2 separate regions of the Homo sapiens genome follow, and region 1 is linked to region 2. Evidence: fine-mapped expression QTL. A gene starts in region 2. The other region holds a variant in brackets. All regions are shown on one strand. Distances are from middle to middle. Region 1 overlaps PCBP1-AS1 (PCBP1 antisense RNA 1). Region 2 holds the start of PCBP1 (poly(rC) binding protein 1).

Evidence for each region. PIP is the estimated chance that this variant, and not a neighbour inherited with it, causes the effect.
Region 1: its variant is fine-mapped to the expression of PCBP1 in whole blood (TOPMed, PIP 0.98).

What each region holds. Positions count from the first base shown.
Region 1 is chr2:69,969,381-69,972,281 of GRCh38, forward strand. The region is part of intron 9 of PCBP1-AS1 (PCBP1 antisense RNA 1); the gene reads right to left. It also overlaps a transcript of ASPRV1 not described here. Among named protein-coding and RNA genes, the nearest start is that of ASPRV1, 9.2 kb to the left of the region's middle. RefSeq lists an enhancer at 2,773-2,901. The variant CA/C (reference allele first, on the strand shown) is at 1,786.
Region 2 is chr2:70,085,600-70,088,452 of GRCh38, forward strand. PCBP1 (poly(rC) binding protein 1) reads left to right here and starts at 1,878. Exons shown (of 1, transcript NM_006196.4): 1 at 1,878-2,853. The coding sequence starts at 2,145. It overlaps PCBP1-AS1 (PCBP1 antisense RNA 1), which reads right to left and starts at 1,416. Exons shown (of 11, transcript NR_033872.1): 1 at 1,379-1,416; 2 at 1-25. It also overlaps a transcript of ASPRV1 not described here. RefSeq lists enhancers at 475-614, 755-844, 885-1,094, 2,300-2,853 and silencers at 1,305-1,454, 1,905-1,964.

The DNA.
Region 1 (2,901 bases), 120 kb before region 2:
TGGCCCTCTCAGCCTCAAGGACTCTGGCCTTCTGAAGCCCTCGCACTGCTGTTTTCCTCCTAGGTCTTCTCTGCGCCTTTGGTTTCTGTATCCCAAGTTTCTGGGTCTTCTGCCACTACGACCACTCCCCTCTGTCCTTTGTGGGTTCCTCTCTCCCTGGATACTCACAGATGTGGCTCCCTGAGGCTCTGTCTACAGGCCATTCCCCCTCATTCCACACACTCTCCAGGCCAGGGACACCCCTCTCTGCACCGCTTACCCATCCTCTCCCCACTGCCCCAGCTGCCCACCTTACATGTCTGCCTACGAGTCCACTTTCAACAGTGAACATGCTGTCTTCTCACCAGACACCCTCTGCCTCCTGTGTTTTTTGTTTGTTTCGTCACCTAGGCTGAAATGCCATGGCTCCCTGAAGCCTTGACCTCCCGGGCTGAAGCAATCCTCCCACCTCAGCTCCAGTTCCACCTTAGAGGGGATCAGAGGTGCACACCACCACATCTGCCTAATTCTCTTAAATTTTTTTTTTTTTTTGGTAAAGACAGGGTCTCCCTACATTGCCCAGGCTGGTCTCTAACTCCTGGGCTCAAGCAATCCTCCCGCCTTGGCCTCCCAAAGTGCCAGGATTACAGGCATGAGCCACCACACCTGGCTCTCTGTGTTCTTTATCTGGCAATGGCACTACTATCTAGCCAGCCCTCGGAGTCACAGACACAGGGGGCTTCCTCACCTCCACCCCTTTCTCACGGCCCCACCTGGACTGCTGGGTCGCCAGTGCCCTCAGCTCCTCCTCCTGAGTCTCTCTCCTGCCTCCATGCCTCTTCACACCCTGGCCTCAGGGCACCCTGCTGAGGTCGGTAGTCATCCTACAGGACTCCTTGCCTCCTGCCTCCTCTCCATTAATCCACCCTCCTCAGGCCACCAGAGTCATCTTCCAAAGATGTAAGTCTGCTCATGCCATTCTGCTCAAAATTCCTCCATGGCTCTTCATCCCAAAATAAAATCTTGACACCCAACAAGACTCACGAAGTCCCCCTCCCTAGTTCATGCTCTACCTATACAAAATGGCGTGTAGCTCCCCAAACAGGACGGGCTTTCTCATACCTTTTCACAAGCCACTCAGCCAGATGAGCCCTCTGACACCCCTGTTCTCCTGGCAAACACTGAGAAGTCAACTAAGACACTACCACCTCCAGGAAGTCTCCTTTGATTTCCCTAGCAAACTCAGGGTCTCCCTCCTCTAAGGTGCTATCATAAGGGACTGCCAGGCCCAGCTCCTCTCTGAGTTGCAGCACTGGTACAGTCTAAACATGAAAGTCCCGGTGTTTCTTGGCCTTTGGTCTCATCCACAACCTGCACATCCTCCAGCCCAGGCTGTCCTCACCTTTTTCCCATGAAGCATTGCCTGATCTTCCTCAGCAATTGCTTCTGCCTCGATGGCTTTGAATATCAGGCCTGGCAGTGCTCTTTAACTGCAGATGAGCAGCATTCAAAGTTGCCTTTTTTTGGCCGGGCACAGTGGCTCATGCCTGTAATCCCAACACTTTGGAAGGCCGAGGCGGGCAGATCACCTGAGGTCAGGAGTTCGAGACCAGCCTGGCCAACATGGTGAAACCCTGTCTCTACTAAAAATACAAAAATTTGCCAAGTGTGGTGGTGGGCACCTGCAATCCCAGCTACTTGGGAGGCTGAGGCAGGAGAATTGCTTGAACCTGGGAGGTGGAGGTTGCAGTGAGCTGAGATCATGTCACTGGACTCCAGCTTGGGTGACAGAGTAAGACTCTGCCT[CA/C]AAAAAAAAAAGTTGCTTTTTTTTACTGTACTCATAGTAAGAAAGACATTTTTCATCATAATCCAGTACACATATCCATGAAGATATATGTAGCTAAAACAAAATGTATTTACTATGTGTAATATACTCTGATATTTTCTATTTGGGGCCACTTCTTTTTTAACTCTTTTAATGACACTGAAAACTAATCTCCCAACCCACTAATTGATCCCCACCCACCATTTGGAAAACTGCTATAGCCAGCAGGGATGACTAAGGGCTCCCAGCAAGGGATCAATGTGATTAGAATAGAACGTTAGGACCCTGCCTCTCAAATGTTCTAAGGCGCAGGATCGTTTTGTAAATTTCCAATCTGTCACATACTTTACTATTTAAAAACACAATAAGAATGAATTATCTGAAGGTAAAATAACAAAGATATTTAAAAATGCAAGTCTAGATTCATTATAATTAGATTCAACAGACAGTGCGGGGTGCTAAGAGCATCAGGTGCAAGAATGTTTGGGGAGGCCGGAGATGTGAGGCGGCTTTGCCAGCCTTAGGATGCCCACAAGCCCTTGACATGTAGCCAAGCCAGCCCTGCCAATCTCCGTCCTGGAGCATTTGAACTTGCATCATCTGGGGGAGCTTTGCTGAGGAGAAAGGTGCCTCTGCGCAGTCTTTGGCCTTGTCAAGAGGGCCAGGCTGCCTAAATTCAACTCCTGACTCAGCCACTAACTGGCTGCAAGCTGTGGACAAATGACTTAATTCTTTCAAGCCTTGGTTTCCTCCTAGGATTGTCCTGGGAGATTATTCAAGCAATCCGTACCATGGGGCTTAGCCAGTACTGCACCTGGTTACACTCGACCCTCTTGCTTTCATGGCTGTGATTCGGTTGCTGTCTTCTAGGTTTTCTTTACCATTTTTTTTTTTTGAGACGGAGTCTCACACTGTCACCCAGGCTGGAGTGCAGTGGCGCGATCTCGGCTCACTGCAACCTCCGCCTCCCGGGTTCAAGAGATTCTCCTGCCTCAGCCTCCCCAGTCGCTGAGATTATAGGCGCCCACCACCACGCCTGGCTAATTTTTTGTATTTTTAGTAGACATGGAGTTTCACTATGTTGGTCAGGCTGGTCT
Region 2 (2,853 bases):
ACTTCATCTTTATGTTTGTCTTCCTCTGTTTAAAAGAGAGAGAGAGAGAGAGAGATAAGAACACCTACCTCAGAGGACCATGGTAAAAATTAAAGATAGAATACGGTGAACTGCCTTGCATCGGATGTGCTGGCACTGGCCAATGCACAATAAACGCCTGTCCCTTCTAGACTAAAAATGAACACTTAATTGTGGTAAACTATTAATAAGATTCACCGGCCAACTGTCCTATGAAAAAGTCAGAGGCACTGTAGTCTCTTCGTAGCTCTCGTTCTCTCCAGCACAACAGCCCATGCTAGGAAGTCTAGAAAAGCAGTAACTTATCTCATTCCTTAAATTAAACAGAGGTTTCTAAATGCTTTGGTACTGTGGGGACCCAAATTATCCCTTGATACTGCCCCCCTATTATCCACTATTAAGCTTTAAAAAGGCGAGAGATTAAATATTGTGCCCACATTTTACAGTCATTCGCGTTCCCGTTTCAAATTAAAGGGAGGAAAACGCGTTAAAATTAGGCCTCCGACCTTCAGACCAGCCTGTGGGCTTTTTTAAGTCATAAAACTCGCGGAGGTGGAAGGCCCCGGGGAGGAAGAGGGGTGCATTCTAGAGCTTTCGGGCCGACCCCAATTTCTCGTTGGCGACGAATGCTAACCACGTGTCGCCATTTTGTGTTCAGGAAACATGGCGGCCGCCCCAAGGGTAAGGAACAGGGGAGGCGGAGTAGCGCCACGTTAGCCGCTTTCCCTGAGAGATTGTGAAGCACGTTGCGCACGGGGCCCTTTCTGGTCTGGCTTAGCCCAAGGAGGAAGGGGAAAAGGCAGAAATCACAACTCATAGGCCAGCGTCTTGAGCGACACTTCCTCAGCGGGAAGAACCGGCAAAAAAGGCCTTCCAAGATGGCGGGCCCTGACGGGGCCGCCCCCCTTGAGCCTGGCGCAGTGGCTGCGCCCATGGGCCCGAAAAGCAGCCGCGGGAGCCCAGGCCGCGCGGGGAAAGCCGCAGAAACGTCCTGAAGCCCTGGCCGGCAGCCCCTGAACAAACGAGGCCTCCACAGGCGTACACTATTGTTTCTAATGTCGGAAAAGGGTGCCGCGGTGGAAACGACACAAGGGCAGGAGGTGGGGTTTCTGTGGCTTTAACCGAAAGAAACTTGCGAAACGCAAACAAAGCATTATGTAAATGGACGCCATTCTTTTTAGGACCACGTTTCTAGCACGCCCCACAAACAGCAGAGCCGCGATTCGGCAGGCGGCCGTGAGTGGGTTTCGGTCTTTCTGCCCACCGGCCGCCGCCGGGGAGCAGGAGCTGGGGTGGGGGATCCATGCAGGGCGCCCGGACGCCGGGGACGAAAGGGCCCCACGTGCCCGCCCGCGCGCACCCGCTCCGCAGGCCTCGCCTCGCCGCCCCTCCCCCCCGGAAGAGGGCTGCTGCCCCTCCCATCCCCCCACACCCTCGCGCACGCGCTCTGGTCACCTCACGCGCATGTTTTAAACCCGCGGCGTCCCGGCTTGTGCCTGCAGTTTCCGCCGGGGCTGCCCATGTCGTTCCGCGCACGAGCCCCTCATGTAGGGCAGGAAAATAATGTCTATCCCGCATACACAGCACTAGTATTTTCAGTCACCCGCCAGTGCCGTTAGAGTTAATAAAATACGTCATCATTTTAAAACTTTGCCGGACTCACAGCTTCCGCCCATCGTGCGCTTCATTTTCACTACTGCAGTGTCAGAAGGTTTTTTTTTTAAGGACCATGTAAGGGTTGGCGCAATCTTGTGACCTAAAAAAGACGGGTCCTCATTTTTTTTCAAGGGGTCCTGCGCAGCAAGCACTTCCGGGGTCAGAGGGTACGCGGGGTTGAAAGCGGGCTTCCCGCCCCGCCCAGACCGCCGAGGCTGCCGCCGGAGTCGCCACCGCCGCGCCCTCGCCCACCCGCCCGCCCGCCGCTCCCGGCCCCGCTCGCCCCCTCCGCCGCCGCCGCCCGCCCCTGCGACTACGCTGCGGCCTCCCGCCCGCTCCCGCTCGCTCCCGCGGCCCTCGCTCGCCTCGCGCCGGCAGTTTTGGGCCTACACCTCCCCTCCCCCCGCCAGCCGCCAAAGACTTGACCACGTAACGAGCCCAACTCCCCCGAACGCCGCCCGCCGCTCGCCATGGATGCCGGTGTGACTGAAAGTGGACTAAATGTGACTCTCACCATTCGGCTTCTTATGCACGGAAAGGAAGTAGGAAGCATCATTGGGAAGAAAGGGGAGTCGGTTAAGAGGATCCGCGAGGAGAGTGGCGCGCGGATCAACATCTCGGAGGGGAATTGTCCGGAGAGAATCATCACTCTGACCGGCCCCACCAATGCCATCTTTAAGGCTTTCGCTATGATCATCGACAAGCTGGAGGAAGATATCAACAGCTCCATGACCAACAGTACCGCGGCCAGCAGGCCCCCGGTCACCCTGAGGCTGGTGGTGCCGGCCACCCAGTGCGGCTCCCTGATTGGGAAAGGCGGGTGTAAGATCAAAGAGATCCGCGAGAGTACGGGGGCGCAGGTCCAGGTGGCGGGGGATATGCTGCCCAACTCCACCGAGCGGGCCATCACCATCGCTGGCGTGCCGCAGTCTGTCACCGAGTGTGTCAAGCAGATTTGCCTGGTCATGCTGGAGACGCTCTCCCAGTCTCCGCAAGGGAGAGTCATGACCATTCCGTACCAGCCCATGCCGGCCAGCTCCCCAGTCATCTGCGCGGGCGGCCAAGATCGGTGCAGCGACGCTGCGGGCTACCCCCATGCCACCCATGACCTGGAGGGACCACCTCTAGATGCCTACTCGATTCAAGGACAACACACCATTTCTCCGCTCGATCTGGCCA